Linked DNA regions of Homo sapiens: region 2 is linked to region 1. The links come from fine-mapping of genetic effects on gene expression. A gene starts in region 1. The other region holds a variant in brackets. All regions are shown on one strand. Distances are from middle to middle.

Region 1 (8,307 bases):
TTCCAATATTCTACTCTGACCAGAGGATTTCTATCCTTTTCATTATCTCCCTTTTAGCTACAAACACTTGTATATTTACTTCATCCAGACTTTTAATCCTTTGAACCAATTATGTTATCTCAATCTTTCAGCTCCTCCTGGCTCTATCGTCATCCCTATCCAGTCTAAACTTCACATTCCATCACTCTGACCATTCTTTCACCAATAGTTTCAACTCCTTTGCAATCTTACCATACGCACGTAACAAAATCCAAATACTGTATCAATCCAACTATTTATCATCTCTGGTTCTACTGAATTTTGCTGCCAAAAGTCACAGAATCATATGAACTAGTATTATTACAAATTAATGATCCAGGCCTATCTGGGAAACCTTCCAAAAACTGTAGTTAGCTCTTTCTCCTATTCCCTATGGCATCTGACCAGTCTCTTCTTGTTGGATTCTCTCCCTCCTTATCTTCTAGACATCCACTGTCATTAGGCTGTTCCTTCTGTCTTTTTCACTGGGTCATCTTTCCTACAGGGTAGTGTTTCCCAGCGTTTCCCTTCTGCTTTATTCTTTCTTATTCTACAAACTCTCTTAGGCATCATCCATTCTCACATTGTTTTAACTACCTATAAATTGATAGCATCCTAATCTCTATCTCCAGCCTAGAATCCTCTCTTTAACTCCAGGCCAAAGCAGCCAAATACCCACTGAACAGCACCAATTGTGTGACCTAAACCCATGTCCAAGACTACTGATCTTATTCTCCCCATACATCTGATATTGCTCATGTGATTCCTATCTCGGCAAGTCATAAACCTAGGAGGTATCCTTGACTCCATCACTCCTTCATCCCCTACATCCATCTGGCCACTAACTCAATCACCTTAATATATCTGGAATTCATCCTCTTCTCTCCAGCAGCACTGCATTTTCGGAGTTCTGTCACATGTAATGCAAATGTCTGCCTTACCCCACTACAATTCATTCCTCACATTGCCTCATGAAACTGATGTTAACTTTCTTCCACTTAAAATCTATTACTCATGGATCAACATAGCCTCCAGATTAAAGCTCAAAATGGCTAACACGGTGTGGAAGAGAACTTTCATTATTTACCCTTGTTTACTTTTTAAAGTTGATCTATTCTCTATCTTAACACATTAAGGGTCTATGTCCCGTTTCTAACCTATCTATTTGTCCTCACTGCTTTCTTGTGCCCAGAATGCCTTATCCTCTAACCTCACCAACTAATTCCTACTCACTTTCAAACTTCAATTCAGATGAAAATTCCTCCATAAAGCCTTCTCTGAATCTCCTCAAACCTTGCACACAGTTTTCTCTATCCCCCACTATACTATGTGAACGACTAATTATAATGTTTATCCCATTGTATTTTGGTGTTGTTTATGAAGTCCATGCAATACTGTAAGTTCCTTAAAGATAAGTTAAGGACCTAGCACCAAAGTAGTTGCTGTCTTTGCTGAATGAAGGAATAAATAAAAAATAATGAATACAATACCTTTAATAACTATGAGTCTTTAAAAATCACATTTACTTAAGTGTTTCAACAATTAAAAACATTTAATAAAAAGTTTCCTCCATTCTTCTCCACGTGTATGTCCTAATAGCATATACTAAAATCAGGTTTGGTTACATAAACCAACATGTGCAATGATTGGGAAATAGAGTAGAACTTAAGAATAAATTATGAAAGCAGGTAGGCCAAATAGAAAGGTTTGTCAAGAGAGAAGGGAAAGATACACCCTGGCAACCAAAAAAACTTCATAAAACTACAGTTACAACACCCACAATTACTGTATTACATTTGTTCAACATATGTATCAGCCAAATTAGCAAGAACTCATCTGACCAAAAGGAGATTAGAAGATACCTTCTCCAGTTTAGGAGCTTCAGTGGATGCTTCATTGGTCCCCGGGCAAGTAAAAAGATAAATCTTTAAATAATAGTAATAAACTGACTATCTATGCAAGTTGGATTCTCAATTTCCTTTGGCCTAAAGAAATGTTTTCTTTCATGAACAATGGAAAGCTATACAGTATTTAAAGTCAAGGGTTTTGGAACATCTTCAAAATATATAAAACTAAAGTAACTCAGACTAATTAAATGAAAGCCAATATAAACTTTTAAAATCATAAACACAATTTTATTACTTTCAATATGACCTGAGTAGGGGGAAAAAAAAAAAAAACTATGAGGCCAGAAGTACTTAGAGGGTTACAAAAACTACATTTCAATCCATTGTTTGAAAATAGATGGGCTCTTCCACATCACTTAAAACTTTGTTGTTTCAAATCATTTACATGGAGGAAATTCACAAATATCCCTTGTCCTATCAGCTTAGCAAATCTTGTTTCTTATCATGTGGAAATAGTAACAAAACCTCCATCAATCTATTACTAATTGTGAATCACAGACTTATACTCATATAAGTATACCATACTTTATTATACCATGCATCTCTAGATCTATAGATTTCTCATCTCCTAAAGAAATACTTACTACCCACTTGATCAAAATTTAAATTATCACCCTAATTTTCTTTTTGTGCTTAAACCAAGTTCTTTGTTATACATCAAGAAATACTGATTAAGATCAAGATTTGTTATAGACTAATAATCCTTAAACTATTATTTCCTTACACTTCCTCCAAATATAGTTATTATTTCTCATTGTGGTTTTTTCCCGCTAGAAGGTTAATGTCCTCAGCTCTTGAATTTTCCCCATTAACCTTGCAATCTTGATCAGGTCCATTTCTAGAACTGAAAGATGTAACACCAACGCGGAGGGATCACTTGAGGTCAGGATTTCGAGACCAGCCTGGCCAACATGGTGAAACTCCGTCTCTACTAAAAATACAAAAATTAGCTGGGTGTGGTGGCATGCGCCTGTAATCCCAGCTACTTAGGAGGCTGAGGCAGAAGAATCACTTGAACCTGGGAGGCGGAGGTTGCAGTGAGCCGAGATCGCAGCACTGCACTCCAGCCTGGGCGACAGAGTGACCCTGTCTCCAAACAAACAAAAAAATAGCAAATGCAAAATTTTAAGAAGTTATATTTTCTTAAATTTTCCAAACTCCTAATAGTGATATTAACAATTTAATTCAACTAATCACTTGTGGACAATATCCCAAAAGTATCATGAAGCTAAGAATATTATGTCTCAGACTGTTTCATAAATCATTTTAAACGGGGAAAAAGGCCAAACGATTTACCGGTAAGCACCATCAATCAATCAACAAATGAAAAACTCTGGTTATACGTCCATGAAAATTTTGATTTCAAACTATTTATTACAGGGCGCGAGGCTGTGTTCCGCCTCCTCCAGCTCCTCCTGATAACCTTTTGGTTATCAGGCGTCAACTGGAGACAACAATCAGTTAAAATCCAGTAAATTTGGGGTTAATGAAACAAATGTTAAAATAGATATAATATTGATAAACATTAGCCAAGAGATGGTAACTACCTAACATTGATTAAGTAAGCAAATAATCAAGGCAGAGGTTTTAGCTTCCACTAATCTATAAAAGCAAGTGAAAATGCTTTGAAAATTGCATTTTTATGCAATTGTTTCAATATCATACCTTTGTATGTAACATTAAAAAGCTCATGATTACTTCATTTCAAAATTCAGATGAGTCACAGTGCTTTCTACGCAGGAATTGGATGTGAATCAAAATTGTAAACATGCACTTGCTTGGTAGTCAAAAAGTGAATGTGGACAGATACAATGTTCGTTGACACAGTAAAACATAATCATAAAATGCATCCTGTGTTTTTAAAATAGTTACTTCCTGTTAACACAGTTCAGGAAACATGCCATCTACCCTCCTCTCCTGGAAAATCTCAAAATTATACTAATCCCATTCCTCTTCTTACAGATAGGCCACTGAAACCTGGAGTCATTACTGATACAGTTATCAGGATTACACCCTCAGAGCCACGATGGTTTCAGGGATACTAGAACCTGAAAATAACAAAAAAAAAAAAAATTTCCAACTCAAATCTAGACAATAAAACTAACATATAAACTGGAATAAAACGCAGGAAATGCCGATTTTAATACCTGGTATGAGGCTGACCATTAAGGCATCCATCAAAAAAGTTTGGAATGTATGAATGAATGACTGCATGAAATTGGCAGGATTTCATTCATTTCAAAAGCTCCAAATTCAGGAACCACACTGAGATATCAGGACGCCACAGCTGAAACTAAAACTCATGAAGGGTAAATGCAACATAACTGCACGTCTCCACGCGTTAGCTGCTGCGAAAATTTCAAAACATACATCTAACATACTCTTTCTTCAAGTAATTGCCGCAAGTGCGGACGGAGCCAGAGAACTAGGAGACTGAAAACAGGCCCTGCTCACCCATAAGCCTTTGCATTATAAGTGGACATGATCTGAGTGAGTCACCGGGAATGAGAAGGAGACAGTCACCCCAGGCCAGGCAGGACGCGGCCAGAATCTCCTGCTCTGCCCCCAACTAGGGAACCGGTCGAAGGAGAGTGGGACGACTGCAACCTGCTGCAGCTAAGTATGCAAGGATCGCGCCGACCGGCTTCCGAGTCGAGATCCCACTAAGTCCCACCGCAGTCACCACAGCCAGCCCTGCCCAGGTATCTCGGAGCTCCGTAACCTCAGAAGGCCTAGTCCTCCAGAAGCTGAGAGCCCCAGCAGGACCGGACGAGGGCAAAAAGCCCCCTCCCGGCTGCCCCTCGCCGCGACGCGGCCCTGCCGCCACATGCTCCACTGCCCCGTCTCCCAGCTCAGCCCCAGCCCCGCAGGGCCTCAGCCGCCCTCCATGCAAGCCGACCGGGCCGCAGGCGGCGCGACCCGGCGGCTCCCGAGCAGGGGTGCAGCGGTGGCAGCCCGCCGCCCCGCACGGCTTACCTCCCTTCTGCCACAAGCTCAGCCCAGCGCCGGCTGCCTGACGTGGCCCGCCCCGCCGCCTCGAACGCCCGGGGGCGGGGACTGCAGGAGAGAGCCAATGGGCTGCATATCGCGAGGCCCTGTTCCGCCTCCTCCGGCTGGGGCCCGCCCTCCCCGGCTCGCGCGCACGCGCGTCTAAGGCCCGGGCCGCGCACTGCGGTTGAAAGGCGGCGTGGGCGGCGGACCCGCGCTCTGCAGCCGAGCTGGTGCGGGGAGGGCTGCGCGCGGGGGCTGGCTGTGGAGCAGCACCGCAGTGAGGAGTTAGCCCAAGGAAAATCAGATTAAAGGAAACTGCCTAGAGATGCCACTGCAGCGTGCCCGGGTAGTCCTGTTGGCAGCCTGCCCCTATGCAGCTTTTGGCAATACAGAACAGCTTCTTGGTATTTGGAGATTTTGTTTCTCGGGGGAAATAAATAATACTGATAACATTAAGGATTCAGAAAATTTAAAGCAGACAGCCGACTTGCCGCGAAGACGCTTCGTTCTTCGCCTAATAGCTACTTGGTGTCTTTACTTCATTTGGCCAACACATAACACTGCAGCTCTCCACGCCACTGTGGTATATCCACTTGTTAGATAGTCCTGAGGTAGTTCTAGCCCAAGTGTTTCTGCTGATCTAATCTGGGGGGAATTGGCGCGAGTAATTATTCTGTTACGATTTTGCGCAATACTTACTGAATGATAAACATGTATTTTCTCGTGGGGCGGGGCAGGGGCTCCCACGTGAGAAGGCTGTAACAGACAGACAGCAGCCACGATGAAACACGCTGAAAAGAGCCAGCAGAAAAAAACGAGGAGAGACTGGTATGACGGAGTGGAATTCCGGTTGTGGATGACAGAATGGAAATTTTACGCAAGATGAAAGAGTTAAGACAAATTACTCTAAAAATATCTGACTTAGTTGTTTCTAAACCCTGGGGCACCCTTAGGAAAAAATAAAAATAAAAAAACAAGTGCCTGGGCCTCATCACTTGGTTGAAAAAGGTCTGCTGCCAGATCTTGACATTGATATTTTTCTAAGTTTCCAAAGTCATTTTAATGTGTAGACAAGAAGTTCTGTTTCTCATTTGTAGGAAGAATTTGGTTCCCCATCACCTCAGAAAAGTAATTATGTATCACAGACCGTTAACAGTTTTCCCAATAACCAACTATGCATTCACCCTCTAAGAATTTATCTAAATTAATCTTGGGGCCAGGTGGGGGGGCTCACACCTGTAATCCCAGCACTTTGGGAGGCCGAGGAGGGCGGAGTTCAAGACCAGCCTAGGCAACGTGGTGAAACCCCATCTCTACTAAAAAAAACATACAAAAATTAGCCCGGCGTGGGGTTGCGCGCCTGCAGTCACGGCTACTCTACTCAGGAGGCTGAGGCAGGAGAATCGCTTGAACCCGGGAGGCGGAGGTTGCAGTGAGCCGAGGTGGCGCCACTGCACTCCAGCCTCTGATGGAGTGAGACTGTCACAATCAATCATTCAATCAATCAATATTGAACCTACTTAAAGTTATTCAACCTCTGTTATCCTTTGCTTCAAAGGAGTTTTATAAGGCTTATAATTCCCTTTTTATGGACTTTGATGATACTCTCTTTCAGTCTTCCAAATGCACCAGTATTTCTTTTAGGACTATTTTAATATTTTTTCTTCTATTCCTATATTTCTTGAGGCTCATTAGTCAAAATTATAATTAAACACATAACTCTGTAAACAGCGCTGTTCTAAGTATATAAATTTATTTAATCCACAGAACAACTTTATGAGGCAGTTACAGTTATTACCCACATTTTATAAATAAGGAACCTGAAGTACAGCAAGTGAAGCATCTTGACCAAGGTCATGCACCTACCTAATGGCCAGGCCAAAACTTGAATCCAAGCACCCTGGTGCTCAATGAGTAAACGTACTGCCTCTGTTGTAGAAAGCCTGGTTTTAGGAACACACAGGGAAATGCCCATTTAAAGAATGATATTGAGTCTACTTTTGACACCGTCTTATTATGTTCAGGCTGCTATAACAAAGTATCTTAGACTGGGTAATTTATAAACAATAAAAATTTATTGTTCACAGTTCTGCAAGCCGGGAAGTCCAAGCAAGGTGCCAGCAGATTTGGAATATGGTGAGGTTCCATTCCTCATGGATGGTGCCTTCTGTGTATCATCACAGGATAGAAGGGGAAATAGATTACCTGAAGCGTCTTTTATAAGGGCACGACAGGAGTCCTCATAACCTAATCACCTCCCAATGGCCCCACCTCTTAATCCTGTTGCATTGGAGTTTAGGCTTCAACACATTAACTTTGGGGGACACAAACATGTAGGCCACAGCAGACACCTATCCTAGATTCAGATTTTGGGCAGGATTGAGAAACTTGACCATTAAACTTGGAGCCTAGAACCGATTTGACTGCTTTTACTGCAGATCTAGGGTTAAGCTGGAAGTCCATGGGCTCACCCCCTCCTTCTGGGGTATACTCCTTCCATACAGGAACTGCAATTCAGCAGGGATCATTTCACCTTTTAATTTATTTAATCTAATGCTATACCAGGCACTGTGGTAGGCACAGGAGATACCAAGATGAAAGACGTATTCTAGAGCCTTATGGAGCCAGCTCATTCTGGAGACCAAGTCAGCAGCCACCAGATTTATTTTGACAAGACTAGAGAGATAGGCTTTTAGAACTAGAAAGGATCTCAGAAGTTGCCAGTTCATGACAAAGTTTTCTCTGACAAATTCTGAAGTTAAAAAATATGGACAATGTATTAAGTTTTCATAAAAATAAATTTATTCAATTTAAAGGACTGTCCTTTTCCTGAGATTATGCTTTGTTCTTTTGTTTTGTTTTAATGTTAAAAGTACCCTCTCAGGCCGGGCATGATGGCTCACACCTATAATCCCAGCACTTTGGGAGGCCAAGTGGGAGGATAACTTGAGGCCAGGAGTTCAAGACCATCCAGGGCAACAGTGAGGGCCCCCGCCCCATCTCTATTAAAAAAAGAAAATAGAAGTTTTCTCATATGAAATGATAATAGGTTATACTTGTTGGGAATTTTATTTTAGTAAGCTTAAAGTCTTATGTTGGAACTCAAAATTTTTTTACGCTTCACTGATTTAATCTAATCAAGCCAATTACACAGAAGGGAACTAAAATTCTAAAAGGATACAGGTTCATCTTCAATTCTTCAATGTCATATGACTAATTGCTTTTTGTGGGGGGCTGTGGTTGGGCAGGGCTGTTTTTTGTTTTTGGCTTTGTTTTGGTTTGAGGCAGGATCTTACTTTGTCACACAAGCTGGGGTACAGTGACACGATCATAGCTCACTGCAGCCTCACCTCCTGAGCTCAAGCAATCCTCCCACCTCAGCTTTCCAAGT
Region 2 (8,333 bases), 27 kb after region 1:
TTTAAAAAATAAAAACAATATAAAAAGTTTACTGTGAAATCATGTCCCATCCACTACTTGTAGATATTTTCAGTAGTTCTTTGTGCAACTAAGGCAAATATCATACATATTCATAATTCCCCATTTTTCATAGACAAAAGGTGCATACTCTACCACTGTTTTGTACCTTGCCTTTTTTTCACTTAATCTTGGTTATCTTTTCATGTCAATATATAAAGAATTTCCTCATTCTTTCTTTTACAGCAGCATTTTTTGATGGCCATTTCAGAGGTTTCCAAGCTTTTACTAATAACAGTGGTGCTTTTGCCCACATCATTTTGTACCTGCCTAAGTATATCTGTAGGATAAAGTGACAGAAGTAGAATTTCTGAGTCTAAGTGTAAATGCCTTTGTAATCTGGTATTACTGAATTAACTTCCATAGGGCTTGCAGCAATATGTACTCAATGTATCCTATGTTTAGCAATATGAAAATTAGACACAATGGCTGATTTTCTAAATATTGACCTCTTTTTCCCAGTGTGACAAAATGTAAAACAGTAGGAAGAGAGATAGTGAGAAAAAGAAGGACACTGAGAATATCTCAGTTTAACAGTTCCCTCTTAGACTTTAATTACCTGCCTAGTCTGTGCTCCTTGGCCCATCAAGTGAACAACTGCCTCCCAACCATTTAAATTCCCTCATTTTTAACACCTCCCTTTCCCCACTCCTCACAACCAAGTCAGGTTTTTCTATCACAGCCTGCTGCAAAACCCAGTCTTGAGACAATCTTATAATACATGTTGTCTACTCTTCCTCCTACAGAACTCAGCACATTGGAGACTATCATACATCTTTAAGTGGTGCTGACACTACAATTTCAATGTTTCTCCTGTCTATTGAGCCCTTCATGCTACTTCTCAGTCCTTTTACTAGTCTTTGGTTGTCTCCCAACCCATTCTCCTCTACCACATTTTTCAGATAACTTTGCTTCCGTACTTCTCAGAGAAGACCAAGAACATCAGAGTGAATGCCATCATTTTCAGTTGCCATTGCCAAACATCTCCACAGCCTCCTTAGCTCTCCAGCTGTGCTCTTAATTCTACTTCTCTAATTTCTCTAAAACATCCCTTCTCAAATTATTCCTCTCTGTCTTAAACCTCCCCTCTTCTGCTGACTCCTTTCCCGTGGTCTATGAACATGTTCAACCACTCCATTTTAATCACAGTCTTGTCATGGAATGTCCCCATAATTTTTGCCCAAATTGCTCTCTCTCTCTCTCTTTCTCTTTGACTGTCTGCCTCTCATATCCTTCTCTGCCATAATTCTTCTTTTATTTCTGTATGCTCTTTTTCTAACTTCTCCAGTCACTATGATCTGACTTCTGATCCTTCTCCCTCAAACCCAAATAAAATGACCCTTGCTGGGGCTACCAGCTTTCTCCTACTTTTCACATCCAGTGAACACTTTTCTGAGTCTGTTACTTGGTATCTCTGTGGCATTGATACTGTTGGCCACTTCTCATCTTGGTCTTCCTTCCATCATTCTAACCAAACTGTTGCTGTCTCTTCGGATCTTCTTTTTCTGCTGATCTCTACATATTGGTATTGAAATGTCCTCAGATTTTATACTGACTTCTTTTCTTCTCACCCTATAGAAATCTTCTTTCTAAGGGATCTGAATATTTTTCCATAATTTTAACTACCAACTACATGAAGAGGCAAATCACCTTGTCAAGATACATGCCCTAAAACCAGACTGTATGGGCTCATAGCCTGACTCTACACTTCCTGGCTGAGAGTAACTTTGGGTATTTTTTCTCTGCCTCAATTTCCTCATCTTTAAAATGGGAATAACAGTAGTTTCTACACCATAGGTCATTGTAAGGATATGTGACATCCAAAGGGTTCAGAATATTGCTTGGCGCCTGATAAGCCCTAGGTTAAGTGTTAACCATAACTACTATTATTGCTGTTATTATTGCTGATGGCTCACAAGTTATTGTCTGTAGCCTCTCTTATCTCCTCGTCTCCACATCTGGATATTTAGCTACCACTGAACCTGTCCATAAGGATGTCCCACAGGTACTCCAAGAAAACATCTCAAAAAACCAAACTCATTATCTTGAAAACAAAACTGAATTATCTTCCTATATTTCTTACTTCAGGCCTTGATGGCATATTATTCACCCAGCCACTTGAGCAAGAAACCTGGAAAATGTTGCCAACTTATCCACTCTCTCTCCATTAATTTTTACCTCTGAGCTATCTCTCATATCTCATTGCACCACTCCGATGGTCACTGCCTTAGTCAAGCCCTTCCCATCTCTTGCCTAGACTGATGCAATATCCTAACTGATCTGCCCACCTGCATCTCACTGCTTTCCAATGCTTTCACAATGCCATCAAAATGACTGCTTCCCTGCATAAAATCTTTCAATGACTATTACTACATTAGTTTGCTACAGCTGCCATAACAAAGTATCACAGGTTGGGTGACTTAGACAACAGAAATTTATTTTCTTCCAGCTCTGGATGCAGGGAAATCCAACATCAAAGTGTTAGCAGGCCTGCTTTCTCCCGAGGCCTAGCTCCTTGACATGCAGATGACCACTTTCTCACCATATCCTCCCATGATCTTTCCTCTATGTGCATACATCCTGGGTGTCTCTTTGGCCAAACTTCCTCTTCTTATATCTTAATCACCTCTTTTTCTTTCTGTCTGTCTGTCTTTCTTTCTTTCTTTCTCCTTTCTTTCTCTTTTTTTTTAGATGGAGTCACTCTGTCACTCAGGCTGGAGTGCAGTGGCGCCATCTTGACTCACTGCAACCTCCTCCTCCCATGTTCAGGCGATTCTCATGCCTCAGCCTCCGAATTAGCTGGAACTACAGGCACACACCACCATGCCAGGCTAACTTTCTTTTTAAATTTTTTTGTGTGGGGCGGGGGGAGGGGAGCAGAGTCTCACTCTGTTCCCTAGGCTGGAGGGCAGTGGTGCCATCTTGGCTCACTGAAACCTCCGCCCCCCAGGTTTAAGTGATTATCCTTCCTCAGCCTGCCAAGTAGCTGGGACTACAGGCGCACACCACCACAGCCAGCTAATTTTTTGAATTTTTAGTAGAAATGGGGTTTTGCCATGCTGGCTAGGCTGGTCTAGAACTCCTGAGCTCAGGCAATCACCCACCTCAGCCTCCCAAAGTGCTAGGCGTGAGCCACCACACCCTGTCACTTAATCACCTCTTTAAAGGCCCTATTTCCAAATACAGTCACATTCTGAGGTACTAGGGGTTGGAACTTCAGCATAGGAATTTGGGGGAAAACAATTCAACCCATAAGAATCACCTACCAATTAAGAATGGAGTTAGTTGCAGGGAGGAGCAAAGATGGCCGAATAGGAACAGCTCCGGTCTACAGCTCCCAGCGTGAGCGATGGAGAAGACGGTGATTTCTGCATTTCCATCTGAGATACCGAGTTCATCTCACTAGGGAGTGCCAGACAGTGGGCGCAGGTCAGTGGGTGCATGCACCGTGCGCGAGCCGAAGCAGGGCGAGGCATTGCCTCACCTGGGAAGCGCAAGGGGTCAGGGAGTTCCCTTTCCGAGTCAAAGAAAGGGGTGACAGACGGCACCTAGAAAATCGGGTCACTCCCACCC[G/T]AATACTGCGCTTTTCCGACGGGCTTAAAAAACGGCGCACCACGAGATTATATTCCGCACCTGGCTTGGAGAGTCCTACGCCCACGGAGTCTCACTGATTGCTAGCACAGCAGTCTGAGATCAACCTGCAAGGCGGCAGCGAGGCTGCGGGAGGGGCGCCCGCCATTGCCCAGGCTTGATTAGGTAAACAAAGCAGCCGGGAAGCTCGAACTGGGCGGAGCCCACCACAGCTCAAGGAGGCCTGCCTGCCTCTGTAAGCTCCACCTCTGGGGGCAGGGCACAGACAAACAAAAAGACAGCAGTAACCTCTGCAGACTTAAGTGTCCCTGTCTGACAGCTTTGAAGAGAGCAGTGGTTCTCCCACCACGCAGCTGGAGATCTGAGAACGGGCAGACTGCCTCCTCAAGTGGGTCCCTGACCCCTGACCCCTGAGCAGCCTAACTGGGAGGCACCCCCCAGCAGGGGCACACTGACACCTCACATGGCAGGGTATTCCAACAGACCTGCAGCTGAGGGTCCTGTCTGTTAGAAGGAAAACTAACAAACAGAAAGGACATCCACACCAAAAACCCATCTGTACATCACCATCATCAAAGACCAAAAGTAGATAAAACCACAAAGATGGGGAAAAAACAGAACAGAAAAACGGGAAACTCTAAAAAGCAGAGCGCCTCTCCTCCTCCAAAGGAACGCAGTTCCTCACCAGCAACGGAACAAACCTGGATGGAGAATGACTTTGATGAGCTGAGAGAAGAAGGCTTCAGACGATCAAATTACTCTGAGCTACGGGAGGACATTCAAACCAAAGGCAAAGAAGTTGAAAACTTTGAAAAAAATTTAGAAGAATGTATAACTAGAATAACCAATACAGAGAAGTGCTTAAAGGAGCTGATGGAGCTGAAAACCAAGGCTCGAGAACTACGTGAAGAATGCAGAAGCCTCAGGAGCCGATGCCATCAACTGGAAGAAAGGGTATCAGCAATGGAAGATGAAATGAATGAAATGAAGCGAGAAGGGAAGTTTAGAGAAAAAAGAATAAAAAGAAATGAGCAAAGCCTCCAAGAAATATGGGACTATGTGAAAAGACCAAATCTACGTCTGATTGGTGTACCTGAAAGTGATGGGGAGAATGGAACCAAGTTGGAAAACACTCTGCAGGATATTATCCAGGAGAACTTCCCCAATCTAGCAAGGCAGGCCAACGTTCAGATTCAGGAAATACAGAGAACGCCACAAAGATACTCCTCGAGAAGAGCAACTCCAAGACACATAATTGTCAGATTCACCAAAGTTGAAATGAAGGAAAAAATGTTAAGGGCAGCCAGAGAGAAAGGTCAGGTTACCCTCAAAGGGAGGCCCATCAGACTAACAGCGGATCTCTCGGCAGAAACCCTACAAGCCAGAAGAGAGTGGGGGCCAATATTCAACATTCTTAAAGGAAAGAATTTTCAACCCAGAATTTCATATCCAGCCAAACTAAGCTTCATAAGCGAAGGAGAAACAAAATACTTTACAGACAAGCAAATGCTGAGAGATTTTGTCACCACCAGGCCTGCCCTAAAAGAGCTCCTGAAGGAAGCGCTAAACATGGAAAGGAACAACCGGTACCAGCCGCTGCAAAATCATGCCAAAATATAAAGACCATCAAGACTAGGAAGAAACTGCATCAACTAACGAGCAGAATAACCACCTAACATCATAATGACAGGATCAAATTCACACATAACGCTATTAACTTTAAATGTAAATGGACTAAATGCTCCAATTAAAAGACACAGACTGGCAAATTGGATAAACAGTCAAGACCCATCAGTGTGCTGTATTCAGGAAACCCATCTCACGTGCAGAGACACACATAGGCTCAAAATAAAAGGATGGAGGAAGCTCTACCAAGCAAATGGAAAACAAAAAAAGGCAGGGGTTGCAATACTAGTCTCTGATAAAACAGACTTTAAACCAACAAAGATCAAAAGAGACAAAGAAGGCCATTACATAATGGTAAAGGGATCAATTCAACAAGAAGAGCTAACTATCCTAAATATATATACACCCAATACAGGAGCACCAAGATGCATAAAGCAAGTCCTGAGTGACCTACAAAGAGACTTAGACTCCCACACAATAATAATGGGAGACTTTAACACCCCACTGTCAACATTAGACAGATCAACGAGACAGAAAGTCAACAAGGATACCCAGGAATTGAACTCAGCTTTGCACCAAGCAGACCTAATAGACATCTACAGAACTCTCCACCCCAAATCAACAGAATATACATTTTTTTCAGCACCACACCACACCTATTCCAAAATTGACCACATACTTGGAAGTAAAGCTCTCCTCAGCAAATGTAAAAGAACAGAAATTATAACAAACTATCTCTCAGACCACAGTGCAATCAAACTAGAACTCAGGATTAAGAATCTCACTCAAAACCGCTCAACTACATGGAAACTGAACAACCTGCTCCTGAATGACTACTGGGTACATAACAAAATGAAGGCAGAAATAAAGATGTTCTTTGAAAACAACGAGAACAAAGACACAACATACCAGAATCTCTGGGACACATTCAAAGCAGTGTGTAGAGGGAAATTTATAGCACTAAATGCCCACAAGAGAAAGCAGGAAAGATCTAAAATTGACACCCTAACATCACAATTAAAAGAACTAGAAAGGCAAGAGCAAACACATTCAAAATCTAGCAGAAGGCAAGAAATAACTAAAATCAGAGCAGAACTGAAGGAAATAGAGACACAAAAAACCCTTCAAAAAAGTCATGACTCCAGGAGCTGGTTTTTTGAAAGGATCAACAAAATTGATAGACCGCTAGCAAGACTAATAAAGAAAAAAAGAGAGAAGAATTTAATAGACACAATAAAAAATGTCTTATCTCTTATGGCTATCTGTGATTAGTGATCTTTGATGTTACTCTTGCAATTGCATTGGTGCACCACAAACCACACCCTAGAAGACTTGAATTTAATTGAGAAATGTTGTGTGTGTCCTGATTGTTCCACGCTTCCACAGATCAGACATTCCCCCATCTCTCTCCCTTTGTTCAGGCCTCCTTATTCCCTGAGAAATAACAATATTGAAATTAGACCAATAACCCTAAGACTTCTAAACGTTCAAGTGAAAAGAAGAGTCACTCATCCCTCACTAGCAATCAAAAGCTAAAAACGATTAAGCATCTCAAAAGCCATGGTAGGCTGAAAGCTAGGCCTCTTGCATCAGTTAGCCAAATTGTGAATGCAAAGGGAAAGTTATTGAGGAAAATTAAAAAGAGCTACTCCAGTGAACACATGAATGCTAAGAAAGCAAAACAGCCTCGTTCCTGATACGGAGAAAGTTTTGGCGGTCAGGATATAAAATCAAACCAGCCACAGCATTCTCTAAAGCCAAAACCTAATCCAGAGCAAGGCTCTAACTCTCTTCAATTCTATGAAGGCTGAGACACATGAGGAAGGTGCAGAAGAAAATTTAGAAGCTAGCAGATTGGTTCATGAAGTTTAAAGAAGGAAGTCATCTTCAAAACATAAAAGTGCAAAGTGAAGCTGCAAGTGCTGATGTAAAAGTTGCAGCAAATTATCCAGATCTAGCTGAGATCACTGATGAAGGAGGAACACTAAACAACATATTTTCAGTGTAGATGAAACACCTTTCCATTGAAAGAATATGCCATCTAGAAATTTTATAGCTAAAGAGGAGAAGTCAGTGCCTTGCTTCAAAGCTTCAAAAGACAGGTTGACCCTCTTGTTAGGGGCTGATGGCTTTCATTTGAAACCAATGCATACTTACTATTCTGAAAATTTTAGGGCCCTTAAAAATGATGCTAAATCCATTCTGCCACTGTTTTATAAGTGAAATCACAAAGCCTGAATGACAGCACTTCTGTTTATAGCATGGTTTACCGAATATTTTAAGCCCCGTGTAAAGACTTACTGCTCAGGAAAAAAAAAAAAAAAAAGATTCCTTTCATCCTCACTGACAATGTACCTGGTTACACAAGAGCTGTGATGGAGATGTACAAGGAGATGAATGTTACTATTATGCCTGCTAACACGACATCTATTCCGCAGCCCACGGATCAAGAAGTAATTTCAGTTTTCAACTCTTTTATTATTACTATCGTTATTGTAAAGCTACAGCTGCCATAGATAGTAATTTGTCTGGTGGATCTCGGCAAAGTAAATTGAAAACCTTCTGGAAGGGGTTAACCATTATATATGCCATTAAGAACATTTGTGACTCATGGGAAGAGGTCAAAATATCAACATGAACAATTTAGAAAAAGTTGATTCCAACCTTCATGGGTGACTTTGAGGGGTTCAAGATTTCAGTAGAGGAAATCACTGCAGATGTGGCAGAAATAGCAAGATAACTATAATTAGAAGTGGAGCCTAGGGTCGGGTGGCTCACACCTGTAATCCCAGCACTTCGGGAGGCCGAGGTGGGCGGATCACGAGGTCAGGAGATCTAGACCATCCTGGCTAACACGGTGAAACCCCGTCTCTACTAAAAATACAAAAAATTATCCGGGCGTGATGGCACACGCCTGTAGTTCCAGCTACTCAGCAGGCTGAGGCAGGAGAATCGCTTGAACCCAGGAGGCGGAGGTTACAGTGAGCCGAGATCTTGCCACTGCACTCCAGCCTGGGCGACAGAGTGAGATTATGTCTCAAAAAAAAAAAAAAAAAAAA

Evidence for each region.
Region 2: its variant is fine-mapped to the expression of FOCAD in whole blood (TOPMed, PIP above 0.99).

The regions. Positions count from the first base shown.
Region 1 is chr9:20,680,888-20,689,194 of GRCh38, reverse strand. FOCAD (focadhesin) reads right to left here and starts at 4,936. Exons shown (of 44, transcript NM_001375567.1): 1 at 4,902-4,936. It overlaps FOCAD-AS1 (FOCAD antisense RNA 1), which reads left to right and starts at 4,445. Exons shown (of 2, transcript NR_121601.1): 1 at 4,445-4,627; 2 at 5,654-5,893. RefSeq lists an enhancer at 4,494-5,234 and a silencer at 4,634-5,333.
Region 2 is chr9:20,653,817-20,662,149 of GRCh38, reverse strand. It overlaps a transcript of FOCAD not described here. Among named protein-coding and RNA genes, the nearest start is that of FOCAD, 26 kb to the left of the region's middle. RefSeq lists an enhancer at 3,405-3,464. The variant G/T (reference allele first, on the strand shown) is at 3,631.